Linked DNA regions of Homo sapiens. The protein of the gene in region 1 interacts with the protein of each later gene in a pairwise test. Each region holds a gene or a part of one and is shown in the gene's direction. Other genes may lie near its edges.

Region 1 (3,695 bases):
GAGAGACTACTAGGGAGCATGGGGAGGAAGGAGGCAGAAGAAATTTCTTTTTTTTTTTTTTTTTTTTTTGAGACGGAGTCTTGCTCTGTCACCCAGGCTGGAGTGCAGTGGCGTGATCTCGACTCACTGCAAGCTCTGCCTCCCGGGTTCACGCCATTTTCCTGCCTCAGCCTCCCGAGTAGCTAGGACTACAAGCGCCCGCCACCACGCCTGTCTAATTTTTTGTATTTTTAGTAGAGACGGGGTTTCACCGTGGTCTCGATCTCCTGACCTCATGATCCGCCCGCCTCGGCCTCCCAAAGTGCTGGGATTACAGGCGTGAGCCACCGCGCCCGGCCAGAAGAAATTTCTAATAACACTCAAGGACGCCAGCTCTGGAGTCTGACTAACTTGGTTCAGATCTTGGCCTTCTCTTCCAATCTTGAGTGAGATACTTCACCTTTCTGAGCCTCAGTTTTCTTCTCTGTAGAGTGGGATCATTGTGGCCAGCTTGTAGTGAAACGCTCCAGAATATTAGCCAAACACAACTAAGGAGATGTTGACTGGGTTTGTTCCATCCATGATAACAGATTTTTTGGTTAATGCCCCATGACACCAACACTTCATATAGCCCTTATGTGTCTGACTCCATTCCGGGCTGTGCTCATGGCAGCCCAGCCATCAGCACCAACTGTGCTGACATAATTGTTTCCTGCTTTTTCTCCTGACTTCTTATTGTGAGTACTTTTCATGCTAATACAGTCTCCCTCCCAGGCACAGCAGACTGCTACAGATTATTCTGATGAACTGATGAGATGTTTGCCTTGGCATACAGCTGTCTATCTAAAACAAGGGTGCCTCTTTTTTTGGTGGAGGGACAGAGTTTCACTCTTGTTGCCCAGGCTGGAGTGCAATGGTGCAAACTCGGCTTACCACAACCTCCACTTCCTGGGTTCAAGCGATTCTCCTGCCTCAGCCTCCCGAGTAGCTGGGATTACAGCACGCGTCACCACGCCTGGCTAATTTTGTATTTTTAGTAGAGATGGGGTTCCTCCACGTTGGTCAGGCTGGTCTCGAACTCCTGACCTCAGGTGATCCACCCGCCTTGGCCTCCCAATCTGCTGGGATTACAGGCGTGAGCCACCGTGCCCGGCCACAAAGATGCCTCTTATATCCCACATCCCTACCCCATCTAACTTTGCCTGCCTGACATCCTTTCTGGGATGGCTCCCAAGCACTTCAGATTGAATGAAAACACCTAGCAACATGGAGCTTCACGTCTCTTCTCTCCTGTTTGTTCAACAGTGTTCTCTATCTCACTACATGGAAGTCTACCATCTACCTGGTCATTTAAGCCCAAGCCTGGGAGTCTTTGTGTTTGGCCAAGCTCATAGGGGGATCTTGGGCAGGCCTGCCAAGAATCCTCTGGACTTTTTTAGGATGAACAAATCAAGCCAAGTGCTGTGGCACGTGCCCATGATCCCAGGCTCTTGGGAAGCTGAGGTGGGAAGATCGCTTGAGTCCATGAGTTCGAGGCTGCAATAAGCTAATTGCACCACTGCACTCCAGCCTAGGTGACAGAGTGAGACCCCCTCTCTTAAAAAAATAAAATAAAAGGCCAGGCATGGTGGCTTACACCTATAATCCCAGCACTTTGGGAGTCCAAGGCTAGAGAATCGCTTGAGCCCAGGAGTTCGGGACCAGCCTGGGCAACATGGCAAGACGTTGTTTCTGCAAAATATACAAAAATTAGCCGGGCGTGGTGGTGCACACCTGTAGTCCCAGCTATCCAGGATGGCTCAAGCCCGGGTGGTTGAGGCTGCAGTGAGCCATGACCATGCCACTGCACTCAAGTCTGGGCAGGACCCTGTCTCAAAAATAAATACAAAGGATGAACAAATTATGAGAGTAAAAAAGGGTTAGTCTCCTTTATCCTTGCTACACCTCCTCACCCAAAGCCAAGCAGTAGTGTAGCAGGATAAGCCGCAGACAAAACCCCCCAGACACCCAGTTAAAGAAGGAAGGGCTTTATTCAGCTGGGAGCTTTGGCAAGATTCACGTCTCCAAAAACTGAGCTCCCCGAGTGAGCAGTTCCTGTCCCTTTTAAGGGCTTACAACTCTAAGGGGGTCTGCATGAAGAGGTCGTGATTGATTGAGCAAGCAGGGGATATGTGACTGGGGGCTGCATGCACTGGTTATCAGAACGGAACAGAACAGGACAGGGATTTTCACAGTGCTTTTCCATACGATGTCTGGAATCTATAGATAACATAACCGGTTAGGTCAGGGGTCGATCTTTAACCAGACACAGGTCGCGGCGCCAGGCTGTCTGCCTGTGGATTTCATTTCTGCCTTTTAGTTTTTACTTCTTTGGAGGCAGAAATTGGGCATAAGACAATATGAGGGGTGGTCTCCTCCCTTAGTAGTAAAGCACTATAAATATTTGTGGATTTACAACCATTTCATTCAGTCTTGATGACAGCCCTGAGAAGTAGTCATTGCATCCCCTTTTATAGATGAGGATACAGTTCAGAGAGGTTAAGGCAACTGGCCAGCCACAAGCTCTGGAAGGTGAACCCAGTTCCCTCTAATCCCAAAGAATGTGCACTTTTTAGTGTGGGACAAGGGGTCTCAAAAGACAGGTGGGAGGATTCTCAGCCCTGGGAGAATAAAAGTTGGGTGAAGTTCAGAACTGCCACCTCATCAGTCAGAACTGGGCCAGTGACAACCTGCAGAAGCTCAGCCTGCAAAGGCTTATCAGGATTCTAGACCTTTGGTTACTTTCCCATCTTTAGTATTTAGTTCTCCTTCCCCAGGATAATCAGCAGAAAAGTGCCTGGCCTTGTGTCCATATACCATGGAGGGGAGAGCTAGAGAGGCGAGGTTCTCGGGAACCACTAGAAGGAAGGAATGAGGGGGCTGCTGGTTAGGCCCAGAGCTGAGACCGAGAAGGGCTCTTGGAGTTCTCCTTCCCTTCGTAACATTAGGTAGAGGCTTAGACAACTTGATTGTTTTTCATGACCTTAAAGACTGTGGCTCCGGCCGGGCATGGTGGCTCACAGCTGTTGTAATCCCAGCACTTTGGGAGGCTGAGGCGGGTAGATCGCTTGAGCCCAGGAGTTCTAGACCAGCCTGGGCAACTTGGCAAAACCCTGTCTCTACAAAATATATAAAAATTAGCTGGACACTGTGATGCGCACTTGTAGTCCCAGCTATTCTAGAGGCTGAGGTGGGAGGATCACCTGAGCTCAAGAGGTCAAACCTGCAATGAGCCGTGATTGTGCCACTGCACTTGAGCCTGGGCAACAGAGAGTGAGATGCTGTCTCAAAAAAACAAACAAACAAACAAACAAAAACAAGTACTTGATGACTCCATTGGGGTCAATTATGAAGAGACCTCTTAGTGCAAGACCAGGACCTTCTAACAGCACACCGAAGTCTCGAGAAATTCGCTTAGTTAAATCTGACAAGGGTGCGATGTTTATGTGGCCCAAAGCACCATTCTTTCTTGGTGTATTTATCCAGGCAAGACGGCTAAAGTGGGAATCCACTGAGACTGCAACAACTTCAAAGTTCACATCGTGAAATTCCTTAGCTTTGTCACTAGAAGCAACAATTTCTGTAGGACACACAAAGGTGAAATCCAAAGGATAGGGCTGGGCGCGGTGGCTCACACCTGTAATCCCAGCACTTTGGGAGGCTGAGGTGGGTGGATC
Region 2 (4,495 bases), on another chromosome or scaffold:
TCAGTCATTCCCAGTAGAAATAATTGAGTCGGACATTATCACCTTGCTATGTCTGTCCATCTCGATCTCATTTTCTCCATTTGTAAAAATGATATTTCAGTCCACCCGGACACAAGTCAGGATCGCGCTCGCAGGCTGGGCCAACCCACAAGGAGCTAGGGGTAGCTGAAATCGCTCGCCAGCCTGCAGCATCTCTGAGGCCGTCTGGGGTTTTCGGAAATTTGCATTTGGTGTGGAAAGCCGGCGTGGTGCGTTTAGCTTGAGCAGGGGCGCCTTGGAGGTCTATTTCCAAGGCTGTGGGCCTGGCGCCCTCACGACATTGTACCTATCCCGAAGGAAACGGGGCTCAGTCACCCAAAGAGCCCACGAGAAAGGCCGAGCAGGAGAGGGGAAAACACACACACACAACAGAGAACCATTGCATTTATTGGACATTGAAACGGGAGCAGAGAGGGAAAGGAAGTGTGTGGGGAGGCGGTTGGTAGGGTAAAGCCAGACAGCTTTGGAGAGAGCTGCTAAAATCGGGAATATTTTGTCGATTCACACTCGACTGGGCCACATGACTCGGGCAACTTTTCTTCATCTCTGCTCACAAACTAGGCTGAGCCTTCTCTTTCTCTGCTTTGGGAAAAATTCGTAACTTTGAGGCCTGCGCGCTCTCTCGGCAGTAATTTCACAGGCTTGGCGGAGGAAGTAGGATCGTTAGCATAAGATGGGCCGCCTGCAGCTGCCTGGAACCGGCGCGATCTGAACGCCGGCTGGGAGGCTCCTGGGGGGAACTTGCGGTCGTCTGCCCTCCGCACTCCTCCGGGAACCGCAGCCGGCCCTGGTTCGCTGCGCGCCGGGGCTGAGACCCGGGAGCCGCGTCCTGCCCGAGGAAATGTCACCCTCCCCAGCGCGAGCCCTTTTTCCCGCCTCAGAACGTTTCTGTCCGCTCTTCTATTTACTCTCTCAGCAAGCCTAATGCCCCCTCCTGCATTCTTCAGCCTCCCCCTGCGCCCAGGGCTGACGTCTATCAAGGGTGAAATGATGGAAACTATATTCATGGGCATGATTTCCATTAAATATCAATTAACCTGAGAGCCTCGGCCAGGCTTGCGGTGCGTCAAGGGTAAATGTACATCTCATTTCCACAGGGCCCGCTCGGCTGGAAAAGAAAGGCTTTGATTTGCTTTGATAACGCCAGGATCTGGGGCCACACTCGCGGCTTTTAATTAAACCACTTCGATATGCCCCAACTCAAATGCACGGTCCGGTCCGTCAACACCTCTTGTCCACGTTCCCTGGGCTGCACCCGCGTGTCCAGAGCTGCAAAAGCCACGGGCAACCTCTGCTTTTGCAGCCAGGGGCTCGGGGAGGCAGTCATTTGCTCCGCAGCCTCCTGGGAGTGGCCTCCTTGGCTCCCCCAAGTCTAAGGCTCCGCCGCGGCCCCTCCCTGCCGGCTGCGATCCGCATTCCCGCGGCCCCGGGGCACACGGAGCCCTTGGCAGTGCGTCTTTATGGGCCCCCTTTAAGGCCGGCGGAGGCATCTCGGGCCGGGCGCGGCGCTCCGTCCGTCGGCCGTAGCGACTGAACTGCGCGCGGATCCCTCCGCGGGGCTCCTCGTCCCCGTCACGCTGACTTTCCGTGCAGTGCTGTGGTGCGAAAATGCCTCGCCGGTGCGCACCGGGTCGGCAGCCTCGGCGGCGGGGGCGAGATTGGCGGGAGGGGGGCGCGGGGGGGGCGCGGTAAGAGGTGGCGGCGGGCAGAGGGTGTTTTTTTTCTTTTCCCTCCAGAGCCGGGGTTTGTAAACCGAGGCCAGAGTGTCCCCGTGGGCCGAGCGCACTTTTTTCTTGTCCGGGTGCGCTCAGTCACTGGTGCCTGAGAGGAAACAGTGGAGGCAGCGGGGCAGGTCGCCTGGGGCGTCGGCGATTATATTGCGGCCGAGCCGGGGCGCGCCGGGAAAGGCCGGGAGGGCGGCGGCGCGCGGGGGCTGGGCGAGGCCCCGCGACCCGCGAGGGAGGCGGCGCGAAGCCGAGGCGGCGGGCGCAAGAGCCGGGCATGAGCGCCCAGTAGCTGAGCGCCCGCGGCTGCCTGGCCTCAGAAGCGACGCGCGAGCGCGGGCGGGCGGCAGCAGCGACGTAGCCCGGCGGTCCCGGCGGCGAGAGCAGCCGCCCCACAGGCCCCCGCGGCAGTGCGGCCGAGTCGAGGCTCGCTCTCTGGCTGCTTAGCGCCGCCCGCCCGCCCGGGGCCGCCGCCGCTGACGCCCCAATGAGTTCGTACTTCGTGAACCCGCTGTACTCCAAGTACAAGGCGGCGGCTGCGGCGGCGGCGGCGGCGGGCGAGGCCATCAATCCCACTTACTACGACTGTCACTTCGCGCCCGAGGTCGGCGGCCGTCACGCCGCCGCCGCAGCAGCCCTGCAGCTCTATGGCAACAGCGCCGCCGGCTTCCCGCACGCGCCCCCGCAGGCGCACGCGCACCCGCACCCGTCCCCGCCGCCCTCCGGGACTGGGTGCGGCGGTAGGGAAGGCCGGGGCCAGGAGTACTTCCACCCCGGCGGGGGCAGCCCGGCCGCTGCCTACCAGGCCGCCCCCCCTCCTCCTCCGCATCCTCCGCCTCCGCCGCCACCTCCCCCCTGCGGCGGGATTGCCTGTCACGGGGAGCCCGCGAAGTTTTACGGATACGATAACTTACAGAGACAGCCGATTTTTACGACCCAGCAAGAGGCCGAGCTGGTACAATATCCTGACTGTAAATCGTCCAGTGGTAATATTGGCGAGGACCCAGACCACTTAAATCAGAGCTCGTCTCCTTCTCAAATGTTTCCGTGGATGAGACCACAAGGTTGGGATGCATTTTTTTTTTAAGAAGGGAGAGGGGGAGAAATCTGCTTTCATCTCACGTTCTGGCTTTAAAACTCCCGTTCCCTCTCCCCCTCCTTTTCCTTCTTGTGTAGCCACAGTGGCTCTTATTCATAAAGTAATACAGACTTTTTTTAAAAAAGTAGGAACCATGTAAAGATGATGGGGACAGAATAATTGTGAAGACCTCTCTGCTCCTCTTGCCTGCACACCCTATATATATATATCGGAGCTAAAGAGCTCTGTGTATATTTCACCCCGTAGACCCCCGTTCCACAAACCTCCAGCAACATGCAGAGGTACCATAACATTTTTAAAACTTTTATTCCCCCCCCCTTTTTTTTTGTTTTAATCAGCAGCTCCTGGTAGACGAAGAGGAAGACAAACCTACAGTCGCTTCCAAACTCTAGAGTTGGAAAAGGAATTTCTTTTTAACCCCTATCTGACCAGGAAAAGAAGAATCGAGGTTTCCCACGCCCTAGCCCTCACCGAGAGACAGGTAAAAATCTGGTTCCAGAACAGGAGAATGAAATGGAAAAAGGAAAACAACAAGGACAAATTTCCCGTTTCCCGGCAGGAGGTGAAGGACGGGGAAACGAAAAAGGAAGCCCAAGAGCTGGAGGAAGACAGAGCCGAAGGCCTGACAAATTAACTTCTACCTTTAAAATTTACCACAGACTATTAAAACTAATAATCACCATATGCTGTGGACACCACCTATTTTCTTTGTTGGAAAGGACCTTACCTGTGTTTCAAGCTACCTTCATGTCACTGCTCTTGAGGTTTTCTGTGCTTTGAGAGGGATTTGGGTGTTTAAAAAAGTTTCTAGTATCACATAGAAGCTGTCCTTGAGCTGTCCTATGGAAGGGTAATTTGATACTGACCTTGTAGCTATATTTTTATAATGGTTTTTAATGTCTGAGCTAGTGATTTGCCTCAACAACGTAAACTTCCTAATGATTAGCACTTAATAATTGCATATAAAATGCTTTATTAATTAAACAAGTGCACTTGAACATTTTAATATTTGTGGTGAGTAAATTAAAAGGAGTTTATTAATTAAAAAAAATTATGTCTGCAGAATACTTTATATTATTTGATTACAATGTATTATTTATGGATTTTTTATTCTTTCCTTTATAATGAATAGTTCGGGTGCGTTTTGTTTACTCCTAAAAGGTTTCTTTGCGTATTTTCTAAATGTAATATCTCGGGGAAAATATTAGAAAAGCACGTATTAGCTGAAGAATGTAACTTGTAGTCCAGCTCTGCAGCTTCCTTAAACTTAAGAAAAAGATTGGGCCAGTGACAAGAATTTAAAGACAATGTCCAAGTTGACAATTATTTTTCTATAGTCCATACAAATTAAATAATCTGGCAACTCTGGCAAATCGCCTTGTAAAATGCGTCTCATTTTTTAACTTGCTTTCGTTTTGAACCGCCCTTGTAATCGCCTGAAATCGCTAGTTCTTTATGCGGTGGCTGCCGCTGTGTTCCGTTATTTTCAGTAGGTGTCATATTTATTTGTATTGCCTTTGTTCTGTTCGCCGCTGGTTTTAAACCAGCTTGCTGTGTGCATCTCAGACGTCGGTTGGTACGTCCTCCGCTGTTCTTCAGGAAAGCGATAGCCTCACCTATTTGAAACAAGCCC
Region 3 (3,695 bases), on another chromosome or scaffold:
GTGAAAGACATAGGGACTTAGCTGACTGTCCATCAGCACGGGGGAAAGAGGTGATATAATTGTCAAAAAAGCAGATGTAATCTTAGCATGCATTAAATGCAGGCATATTTTTTATCACATGAGAAGTGATAATTCAATGCTACCCAGGTTTCTATATTCTGCTGGTCAGAATATAGGTAGACAGTTCTGTTTTATTCTCAGAACCTCACTGGAAGAGGAATCAGACAAAATACAGCATTTTCAAAAGAGATTCACCAGGATAGGAAAGGTTTTGAAAACCAGGTACCCAAGGAACAGATGAAGGAATTAGTGACAGTCTGGGTAAGAAAAGATTTGGCAGGGAGAGGAGTAACAGGGAACAACTATCTATAAATATTCAAAAAGCTGTACTGTTTTGACTTGATTAGTTTGGTTTGGTCCCACAGGGCACTGCACTGGAAGTATCTCCTTGAACTTTCTTTATCCCCATTAGTGGAAGAAAAAACTCCCCCAGGATACTACGAAAACTGGCTGCCCTTTAAGGAAGGTGTTTAAGCAGAGTTTGGACCACCTCTTGGTTGAGGCAGATGAGTAGCTACATTAGATGATTATTACCACTCCTTCTGACCAGCAGTTTATATGATAATAATAGTTTGGGAACCATCCTTTATACAATAGCAACTTTCCAATATTAAATATTGTTTCATTGTAGTTGTGGCTAGGTATTATGGACAGTAACTCACCAAGGGTAAGACTGATACTGTCAGCTATTTGCACAAAGAAGCACCAAGTAAGTGTGGTTTGGCCACTGGTGGCTGAACTGCCTGAAATCTAACCCAAATTGCTGTAGGTTCTGCTCATAGTAACCTTCCATTTTGTGTTTAATACACAGCTGCAAATGATTTTAGCCTACCGTTTAGAATTCTGCAGAGTGGGATAACCCACTAGAGTATGACAGAGGGTTACAACATCTTGTGTATGGTTCCTGGGATGTATAAATGACCTTTCTCAATGCCCTGGCCAAATCTAAGCCTCTATACTACTGCAAACGGTATTTTGAAAAATAAATATATTATTATCCTAGATTTTGCAGTAACATAGAAGAACCTAATTTTATCTCACCAGGTACATTGTGCCAATAATCTCACCACTAGTATCTCTCCCCCAGATTAAAATGGTTATGAATATTAACCACTTTTTATAAAGAATGTTAACAAATGTTTGGCATTGTGACTATAATGCATTAAACTCCAGATTTAGTAACATGTATTCCTTCCAAAAGTCAGTAGTTCTACCCTTTTGAAGACTGTCTTTTTCCATCACTCTTGTTGAGCTTAGAAGCCAAACTATGCGGTGGAGACTTATTCAAGTAGTTCAAATTCACCTCCCTGCATTGCCTCTGCCCCATCAAACCTCATTTGTTCTAGCGTCCTTCTGTTCCACTGCATTGCATTCTGACTGAGCAAGGTGAAGCTTTATAAGTATTTCCACTATTATGTGTTGCTGCCAGAGCTTTTAGAAAGAAATCAGGTTCAAATCAAAAGCGGCAAATGACCTGACGCTTGTATTATAGTAGGATTATGTTACTCTTTAATCCTTGTTTTAGAGTAATGTGTTTGACACTCAAATGTAAGCATTTCCTCTTGGATCTGTCTCTGATCCTCTTTGTTTATGTTTTTGCAGCATCCCGTGTACTGTGTAAATGTTGTTGGGACCCAGAATGCTCATAACCTCATCACTGTCTCCACTGATGGCAAAATGTGTTCCTGGAGCCTGGACATGCTCTCAACTCCACAGGTGGGTTTGTTTTTCCCTACACATAACACCATCCTGGTTAAAAGAGATACCTACTTAATGGAACATAGTTCCTAAAAGCCAAACCCTCACATCCTAGAGGAGCTAAAACAAATGGATGCACTTGAAAGAGTGGGGCCTGCTTTCAGCAATCTTCTCTTGAAGCCAAAACCCATTTCCTTTACCACAAATCATGTAATTATTGTAATACATTAATCCTTAGGTCAGTTTCAAGTGAAAATGAAATAATCCATTCTAAATCATAGTAATTATGGAAGTTGCCTATGGTATGAATTGCACTTACCCTACAGCATTGTTGAACAGATGCAGACGAGGTTGGAGCTCAGCAGAGCAATCCCTTATGGGTACTTGCATTGGAGGGAAGGTAACCCAGCAAAACAGAAATCCAAGCCCTTGCTTGTATCCGTAGCCTAGACAACAGCCTGTGTGTATGAAGAAACCATCTGTTTTCCCCTCTGGAATGTTTTTTAGTATGGCTCCTGTCATTCCTTGCTCAGTAAATGAGAAGTCAAAAATGAAAAAGTTCCAAAGTCTGCAAACCAATACTGATTGCAACAGTGGGGACCAAACAAAGGAATAGAAGTGGGAGAGGCTGTCAAAGGGAGACAACTAAATGCAACTTGCAAGATATGCATATGTAGACAAACACACAAGACATGCGCATACACACATGAACACATACACACACGCTTTTTCCATATTTCTTTGTGTGAAAAAACAGTATTCACTATCCTCCAACCAAAAACAACAGAGAAGTCATTGTTATAGACTTTGACAAAAATGTAAGGAAACATGGAGAAAACTGCAAAACAATATCTAGGAGATAATTCTCAATGTTAACATTCCCATATTCTTTCCCAGGATAAAAACCCTAGAATGTCTCTCACACAATTTTAGAAGAAGTTAAAGTTTCAAAATGTACATAAGGAGACAGGGCACGGTGGCTCACACTTGTAATCCCAGCACTTTGGGAGGCCGAGGTGAGAGAATCATTTAAGCCTAGGAGTTCAAGACCAGCCTAGGCAACAGAGCAAGACCCTTTTTCTACTAAAACTTAAAAAGTTAGCTGGGTGTGCTAGCACATGTCTGTAGTCCATGTTCCTTGGGAGGCTCAGGCAGGAGGATTGCTTAAGCCCAGGAGTTCGAGGTTGCAGTGAACTATTATCACACCACTGCACTCCAGTCTGGGTGACGGAGTGAGACTTTGTCTCTTGAAAAAAATAATTATTATTATTATTATACACACACACATGCACACACACAAAAGGAAATATGGAAACTGTGAAGAACCAACCTCCTTTAAGCCTCCACAAAATACGGATGTAAAGAATACTACGTTTTTTTAAAATAATTTTAGGGAGAAAAAGGAGAGAGTGCTAATAAGCTGCTTACAATTGAAGTTCCACTATTTTCGCTGATCTTTAACATTATAGAGGGCTGGAGGGATTGGTATTTTATGGCTTTGTCTTAAAATTCTCAGCAATGTTTTGTTTTCTTTTAAAAGCCTGAAGATTATAAACAGACATAAGAGCAAGCCCACTATTTAGGAATTTTTAATTGCCCATTTTGCTCATTACACATATTTATTTAGGTTAAAACCAGTAATATGGTGGCTCTAAGTCCGTTTGTATTAGTTTTAGCATGCTCACAGACTCCTGTGTCTATACAAAGATGGAGGATTTCGTGACATGGCTTCCATGGATGGCAGGGAGGAATAGGGGCATCCAACAGTTGGCCTGGTCTTTCTCTCTCCCAAATGGGTAAAGGGACTTTTCCTTCCTTGCTGCTAATTTTAGTGATGAAGCAGATCATTGGATGATCCAGTTATCTGTATGACATAGTCACAGCATCCTCTCCTTTATCCCAGTTGCTGATGTGCACCCTATGTGTGGATATCACAA
Region 4 (3,577 bases), on another chromosome or scaffold:
CTTCTCTATCCCACCTTAGATAAAGTTCAGGCCTTTCTCTATTCTCTTTACCATCCCTTCTGAAGCTGCATCTCAGCTACCACCCTAACCTGTATTAGGCTCCTTCACTCCCCCAGTGGCCTCTCTTAAAAGAAAAGTTTCCAGCTTGAAGTTGGAGTCAGAGGTATCCTGGAGTTTCTAGCTTGAGGTTGCCATCAGAGTTTGGGAAGAACCCTGGGTATTGGGAGGAAACCCAAAGAAAGGTGTTGGAGCCAGCAGGCAGCCGTCCCAGCAGTGCCATCTGGCTCCAGGGAAAGAAGAGGGTATCCTGAGCTAAGACCCCCACAGTGCAGCCCTGGAGGAAAGCCTCGGTGGAGAGGGTAGGGTCTGACAATCTCCTCACCCCCACACAGAACCTGCTCAAGCGCTGCCATGGGTCCCAGGCCAGCTACCTTTTCCAGCAGGACAAGTTCTACGATGTGGCTCTGGACACGGGAGACAAGGTGGTGCAGTGTGGCCGCCGTGTGGACTGTCTGAAGCTGTGGCTCATGTGGAAGGCACAGGGCGATCAAGGGCTGGAGCGGCGCATCGACCAGGCCTTTGTCCTTGCCCGGTAGGCGGGAGGAGGTGGGGGGTCGTCCCTGTTCCCCTCTCCTGGGTCCATGCCCCTCCCTCTTTCCTGCTCCCGGGATTACTTTTCTCTCGGTCTCTCTGTGGCTCATTCTACGTGGGCCTCTTCTGTCTGGATCTCTGCTTTTCCTCCCCGCCTATGGTTTCTCACTCTCTGTTCACAGGTACCTGGTGGAGGAAATGAAGAAGCGGGAAGGGTTTGAGCTAGTCATGGAGGTAGGACCCCTTTCTATTTTGTGGCCCCTGCCCCAGCCTAGCTCTTTTGCAGCCCCCAAGCCCCAACTAAAGCCCTAGTGGAGGGAAAAGGGCAGGGAGAGGGGAAAGGGGCAGGGAGAGGGAAAACGGTCCCCCTTTCTCAGCTCACACCTTCCTCTTTCTCATTCCTCTCAGCCTGAGTTTGTCAATGTGTGTTTCTGGTTCGTACCCCCCAGCCTGCGAGGGAAGCAGGAGAGTCCAGATTACCACGAAAGGCTGTCAAAGGTAGGCGTGCTGTGCTGCTCTCTTTACCCGTTAGGGAGCTGATGCAACTGATGCGCTTCTGCCCCCTGTTGGCTGGGAGTGGCATGGCAGGTCTCCTTGCTGGTCTCTTGCTCTGAGGCGTGGATGCTCTCTTTTCGGTAGGGGTGGGGATGGGGAGGAAGGTATGTTTCTGGGAAGTAAGAAGCAGCGACGTGTGTTACAGGAGAAGTCAGAGAAGTCACCAGTGTGTAGTACACAGAGCCTTGTGCTGGCAATTGGGCTGGGAACTCAGGCCCAGGACAGATATGAGGCAGAATGATCATGGAAAAGCCTTATTACCCGTGCTAGGGACACAGCAACCCGAGAAAGCCAGTCTAGAAGTGCCATCTGGAGGCGAGGAGCTGTGTTATATCCTGGTCCCTAAAGATAGAGTGGTACTAGGTGCTGCAGATGATCTGAAAGGACAAATGTTCTTGCCCTTATGGAGTTGTTATTATAAGGCAAGAGTTACCTACTTGGAAGCAATGTGTTCAAGGCAGTGTTGTAAATTACTTGCTAGATCACAGGGCACAGATTAATATTATCAAAAATATTACAGGAATTAAGAGAGGGGAGAAGAAGGTGTTGACTAAGGCTTAGATGACCAAGGCTTGAAGTTAGACTAAAGCAGTGTTAGGAATCAAGAGAAAGTCAAGATTTGGCAGAAAATGTCCCACAGGACAGATTTCTTGGAGACAGGAGAAATGGGGAGAAAAGCAGAAGATAGCGAAGGCCAAGCAGGTTAGATATGACAGAAAGGTAAACTGAGGCCAAGGTCAAGGTCTGAGCAAGGTGTGCTACCCCCAGAAGGTGGCTGGGTGGGAAGGAAAAGCACCTCTGGAAGCCTGGCAGGACAAGAAGCCAGCCTACCTGTCAGCCGACCCAGGCTGCAGCTGGAATCTCTCTCCACCCTTCCACAGGTGGCCCCCGTGCTCAAGGAGCGCATGGTGAAGGAGGGCTCCATGATGATTGGCTACCAGCCCCACGGGACCCGGGGCAACTTCTTCCGTGTGGTTGTGGCCAACTCTGCACTGACCTGTGCTGATATGGACTTCCTCCTCAACGAGCTGGAGCGGCTAGGCCAGGACCTGTGAGCCTTCTCTGTCTTGCTGCCGGCCTTGATACCACCCCTCACCCGCAGAGTCACTGCATTCCCTCCCAGCCTTTGAGGCCGGGTGCAGTGGCTCACGCCTGTAATCCCAGCACTTTGGGAGGCCGAGGCGGGTGGATCACTTGAGGTCAGGAGTTCGAGACCAGCCTGGCCAATAAGGTGAAACCCTGTCTCTACTAAAAATACAAAAATTAGCCGAGCATGGTGGCCTGTGCCTGTAAACCCAGCTACTCAGGAGGTTGGGGCAGAATTGCTTGAACCCAGGGGGCAGAGGTTGCAGTGAGCCGAGATTGCACCCCTGCACTCCAGGCTGGGCAACAGTACGAGACTCTGTTCCAAAAAAAATAAAAAAGAACAGCCTTTTTAGGCCACAGTGACCTGCGCAATGTTTATATGCTTTGACCTACTAACTTTCTCCTAACTAAATATTTGATTTTAGGAGAGTGTTTAAATAAATTACAGTATGTCTATATGATGAAATGTTATTTTGCCATTAAAATTTTGTTTACAAAGATAATTTTTATTGACATAAAAATAACTTTAATGTAATTTATGTTGAAAAAGCTGAATACAAGTCTTTATATAGAGTAATATTTGAGCTGTGTTCAAAAATACATAGGAAAAGACTGATAAAATGAAATATGGCAAAATGTTAATAGTTTTCCCTGGAATAGGATAATAGGCAATTTTAAAACAGACTCCTTTAAAAAAACAAACAAACAAAAAAAACATAGACTTCTTTATATCTTTTGAGCTCCCTCCCTTTTATTATGTAATGAATATGTGTTGCTTTTGTAATAGGAAAATAATAAAGTTAAAATTTCAACTGCATTCTTTTGGTATGTTTTTAAAATTTATTAACATTCAACCGGCCGAGCACAGTGGCTCACGCCTGTAATCCCAGCACTTTGGGAGGCCGAGGCGGGTGGATCACCTGAGGTCAGGAGTTCGAGACCAGCCTGGCCAACATGGTGAAACTCCGTCTCTACTAAAAATACAAAAATTAGCCAGGCATGATGGCTGGCGCCTGTAATCCCAGCTACTCGGAAGGTTAAGGTGGGAGAATCGCTTGAACCCAGGAAGCGGAGCTTGCAGTGAGCTGAGATCACGCCATCGCACCTTAGCCTGGGCGACAGAGCGAGACTCTGTCTCAAAAAACGAAGCAAAACAAAACATTCAATCAAATAATGAGGATCTTTATTTTTTTTTTTAAACAAGATGTGGCCAGGTGTGGTGGCTCATGCCTATAATCCTAGCACTTTGTGAGGCTGATGTGGGAGAATCGCTTGAGTCTGGGAGTTCAAGACCAGCCTGGGCAACATAGCAAGACCCCATCTCTAAAAAAAGAAAAATTTTTTA
Region 5 (3,695 bases), on another chromosome or scaffold:
GTTAGCTGATTAGCAACCTTAATTCCTCCCTCCCATGTAATTGGAAACATACAGGTTATAGGGTTAGGATGTGGGCATCTTGGGAAGCCACTATTCTGCCATTCACTCTGGCTTAACTTTTTTTTTTTTAATTGAACTTTTCACTGAAACATAACAATATGGGGAAGGTGCCCACATCACACCTCTAGGCCACTGTGGGGTCAGGGTAGGGGCAGCACACACCCAGGTCATGGCTGTGCAGAGAGGGCTGGGTACCAGGGCAAAAAGAGAGTCCTGCCATGAAGGAGGAGGAGGGAATGCATTTGTTCATTCATTAAGCATGTATATTGAGCTCTTGCTGTGGGCTATAGATACAGTGGTAAGCAAGGTGGACGGAAACCCCTACCCTCAAGGGGTTCCCAGTTAGTGAAATGGACAAAATAAGGCAGACCAAAGCACTCTAATATGCCACGGGTCATTTTTCTTCCTCTTAGTGATGTACATTGCAGCTATTCCTGTTTGTGGGGAGCAGTTAGGTTCCTTTACATCTAGAGTGAGGTGGCACAACAGCATATGCTGTCGGGAAGAAGCTGGGTATCAGCCAACTTTCCCCATGCAGCACGTTTTTCTCTGTTGCCACCTGGCATTGTGGAGGCCACTGTAGCTGGAGCCTGGGTGCCACACTGCTCCTTCCAAGTCCAGTGCCTCTGTGTGTCTGAGTGCTCTCTCCTGGGCATCCGCTCTGCATCCTCCTCTGTGCTCCCCTCACAGACTCCATTCATACTCCTTGTGCCAACTGTTTTTTCCTCCCTCTCCTCTTCCTTTCCTTATTCTGTTCTTTCCTCTTCCTTTCCTTATTCCTTATTTTCCTCTTCCTTATTCTGTGTTTCCCTCTCTTCCTTTCCTGGTTTGCAAAACTATATTTTTAAATGGTCAAAGCCACTTGAACCTTGAACGTTTCAAAATAATTAGTTTTATCCTTCCTCTTCCCATCTCACCACAAACTCTTTTGCCGTGGAACAGAGATTAAGGGACATTTCCAGTTTTTGCTTCTTTCAGACTTGGAAACTAGACCCAAAGTCAAACTGTCAGTTCTAAAGCAAGGCATCTCTGAAGAAATATCCAACAGTGTCATCTTGGTAGAAAGATTCCTGTGGGATGGTCTGTGGTACTGCAGGGGTGAGGACACTGAGGGCCACTGGGAATGGAGTTGTGAGAGTCTAGAGAGCCTGGCAGTGCCGGTGGCCTTCACGCCTGTGAAGACGCCTGTTCTGGAGCAGTGGCAGAGGAATGGGTTTGGGGAAAACATAAGTCTGAACCCTGATCTCCCACATCAACCAATGACTCCTGAAAGACAAAGCCCCCACACATGGGGAACACGTGGAAAAAGGGAGAAGCCAGACCTAAATGTTTTACAGAAAACCTGTGTAAAAGAGAAACCCTACAAATGTCAGGAATGCGGAAAGGCCTTTAGTCACAGCTCAGCACTTATCGAACACCACCGGACGCACACAGGAGAGAGACCTTACGAATGTCACGAATGCTTAAAAGGCTTCCGGAACAGCTCGGCACTTACCAAACACCAGAGAATCCATACTGGGGAGAAACCCTATAAATGCACTCAGTGTGGGAGGACCTTCAACCAAATTGCCCCACTGATCCAGCACCAGAGAACTCACACAGGTGAGAAGCCCTATGAATGCAGCGAATGTGGGAAATCCTTCAGTTTTAGGTCCTCCTTCAGCCAGCACGAGCGAACTCACACAGGCGAGAAGCCCTACGAGTGCAGTGAGTGTGGGAAAGCCTTCCGGCAAAGCATCCACCTCACCCAGCATCTGCGAATCCACACTGGGGAGAAACCCTATCAGTGTGGTGAGTGTGGCAAGGCCTTCAGCCACAGCTCATCCTTGACCAAACACCAGCGAATCCACACAGGGGAGAAGCCCTACGAGTGCCATGAGTGTGGAAAAGCCTTCACCCAGATCACACCACTGATTCAGCACCAGAGGACCCACACAGGAGAAAAGCCCTATGAGTGTGGTGAGTGTGGGAAAGCCTTCAGTCAGAGCACACTCCTGACCGAGCATCGGAGGATTCACACAGGAGAGAAGCCCTATGGATGCAACGAGTGTGGGAAAACCTTCAGCCACAGCTCCTCACTCAGCCAGCATGAGCGGACACACACAGGAGAGAAGCCCTATGAGTGCAGTCAGTGTGGGAAGGCCTTCCGGCAGAGCACACACCTCACCCAACACCAGCGAATCCACACAGGGGAGAAGCCCTATGAATGCAATGACTGCGGCAAGGCATTCAGTCACAGCTCGTCCCTCACCAAACATCAGCGAATCCACACTGGGGAGAAGCCCTACGAATGCAACCAGTGTGGCAGAGCCTTCAGCCAGCTTGCTCCCCTCATTCAGCATCAGAGGATCCACACAGGAGAGAAACCCTATGAATGTAACCAGTGTGGCAGAGCCTTCAGCCAGAGCTCCCTTCTCATCGAACACCAGAGGATTCACACCAAGGAAAAGCCGTATGGGTGCAATGAGTGTGGGAAATCCTTCAGCCACAGCTCCTCGCTCAGCCAGCACGAAAGGACGCACACTGGGGAAAAGCCCTATGAGTGTCACGATTGCGGAAAGTCCTTTAGGCAGAGCACCCACCTCACTCAGCACCGGAGGATCCACACAGGAGAGAAGCCATATGCATGCAGGGACTGTGGAAAGGCCTTTACCCACAGCTCCTCCCTTACCAAGCACCAGAGAACTCACACTGGATAAACCCACTCCACATGTGCTGGGGACATAGGAAGACCTTAAGCCATAGCTCATCCCTTTCTAGATTTGACCCAATCATACACATGAGAAACGTACATTCATACACAAGCCTTTTCACACAGCACTCCCCTCAGACACCCTCAGAGAGTTCACACTGATGGGAAATGACCATGGGACCACCAAGCTCTAGGTCATCCATCTCTGCATCCAAATAGTAGGGAAACGTGGAGATAATCAACACTCAGGACCTTCAGCCTTGAACGCCCATTAGTGCTATGTTATAGAACCTACAAAAAAGAAATGGAACAAATGTAGTGGATCCAGGGAACGCTTTTGTCCAAGGATTCACCGTATTCCAAACCAGAGATGTTCAAATTGGTGAGAAACCCAACAAATGCCTTTCATATATACGAGAACCAAATGAAGTCAGAATTTGCCATTATTGCACATCACATTTTTGGGGGGGAAAGTGCTTATGAATGGTGCAGGTTGACTCTGATATTCATTCCCAAATGACAGTATGGCAGAGTGTTCCAGAAATGAGAGTGGCATCTTTATGGAATCACTGTGGATACTGACTGTCTCAGTAAACAGCTGTCTTGTCTGTGTGTATATTGTTTGATCAGGGTACATGGCAGCCAGTCACAGATTGGAATTACATATGACAAAGTATCAGTGTACTATAAACAGGTTTTTAGTTATCCCTGCATTATTTTTGCAATTAATCTTTATATGCAATGAGATTGAAAAGCTTTGTATGGGAAGACTCAAAATGTAAAGCTGCTTCCGTAGAGTCTCACTGATTCTGAGATGGCTTTTGCTGCTCTGTTCTCCCTCTACATTTCTCTGCAGAACTCGCGTTAGAAACACAGATATTTGTTTTACAAAAAGGGAGATTTTTCCTTTGTTAAACCATCGTCTTATAAGCAATAGCAAATT

What was found.
Region 2: the proteins of RCC1 (region 1) and HOXD8 interact in a two-hybrid assay, tested with the Homo sapiens proteins (one large-scale study listed by BioGRID and IntAct).
Region 3: the proteins of RCC1 (region 1) and DYNC1I1 interact in a two-hybrid assay, tested with the Homo sapiens proteins (one large-scale study listed by BioGRID and IntAct).
Region 4: the proteins of RCC1 (region 1) and CSAD interact in a two-hybrid assay, tested with the Homo sapiens proteins (one large-scale study listed by BioGRID and IntAct).
Region 5: the proteins of RCC1 (region 1) and ZNF135 interact in a two-hybrid assay, tested with the Homo sapiens proteins (one large-scale study listed by BioGRID and IntAct).

The regions. Positions count from the first base shown.
Region 1 is NC_000001.11:28,522,981-28,526,675, forward strand, and holds part of RCC1 (regulator of chromosome condensation), read left to right. Parts: intron 1-3,377; exon of another isoform or gene 3,378-3,633; intron 3,634-3,695. UniProt on the Homo sapiens protein: Guanine-nucleotide releasing factor that promotes the exchange of Ran-bound GDP by GTP, and thereby plays an important role in RAN-mediated functions in nuclear import and mitosis.
Region 2 is NC_000002.12:176,128,117-176,132,611, forward strand, and holds the start of HOXD8 (homeobox protein Hox-D8), read left to right. Parts: upstream 1-1,588; 5' UTR 1,589-2,250; coding exon 2,251-2,827; intron 2,828-3,200; coding exon 3,201-3,496; 3' UTR 3,497-4,495. UniProt on the Homo sapiens protein: Sequence-specific transcription factor which is part of a developmental regulatory system that provides cells with specific positional identities on the anterior-posterior axis.
Region 3 is NC_000007.14:96,031,005-96,034,699, forward strand, and holds part of DYNC1I1 (cytoplasmic dynein 1 intermediate chain 1), read left to right. Parts: intron 1-1,662; coding exon 1,663-1,776; intron 1,777-2,077; exon of another isoform or gene 2,078-2,155; intron 2,156-3,695. UniProt on the Homo sapiens protein: Acts as one of several non-catalytic accessory components of the cytoplasmic dynein 1 complex that are thought to be involved in linking dynein to cargos and to adapter proteins that regulate dynein function.
Region 4 is NC_000012.12:53,157,135-53,160,711, reverse strand, and holds the end of CSAD (cysteine sulfinic acid decarboxylase), read left to right. Parts: intron 1-392; coding exon 393-592; intron 593-773; coding exon 774-825; intron 826-999; coding exon 1,000-1,089; intron 1,090-2,027; coding exon 2,028-2,201; 3' UTR 2,202-3,049; downstream 3,050-3,577. UniProt on the Homo sapiens protein: Catalyzes the decarboxylation of L-aspartate, 3-sulfino-L-alanine (cysteine sulfinic acid), and L-cysteate to beta-alanine, hypotaurine and taurine, respectively. The preferred substrate is 3-sulfino-L-alanine.
Region 5 is NC_000019.10:58,065,703-58,069,397, forward strand, and holds part of ZNF135 (zinc finger protein 135), read left to right. Parts: intron 1-1,002; coding exon of another isoform or gene 1,003-1,038; coding exon 1,039-2,759; 3' UTR 2,760-3,695. UniProt on the Homo sapiens protein: Plays a role in the regulation of cell morphology and cytoskeletal organization. May be involved in transcriptional regulation.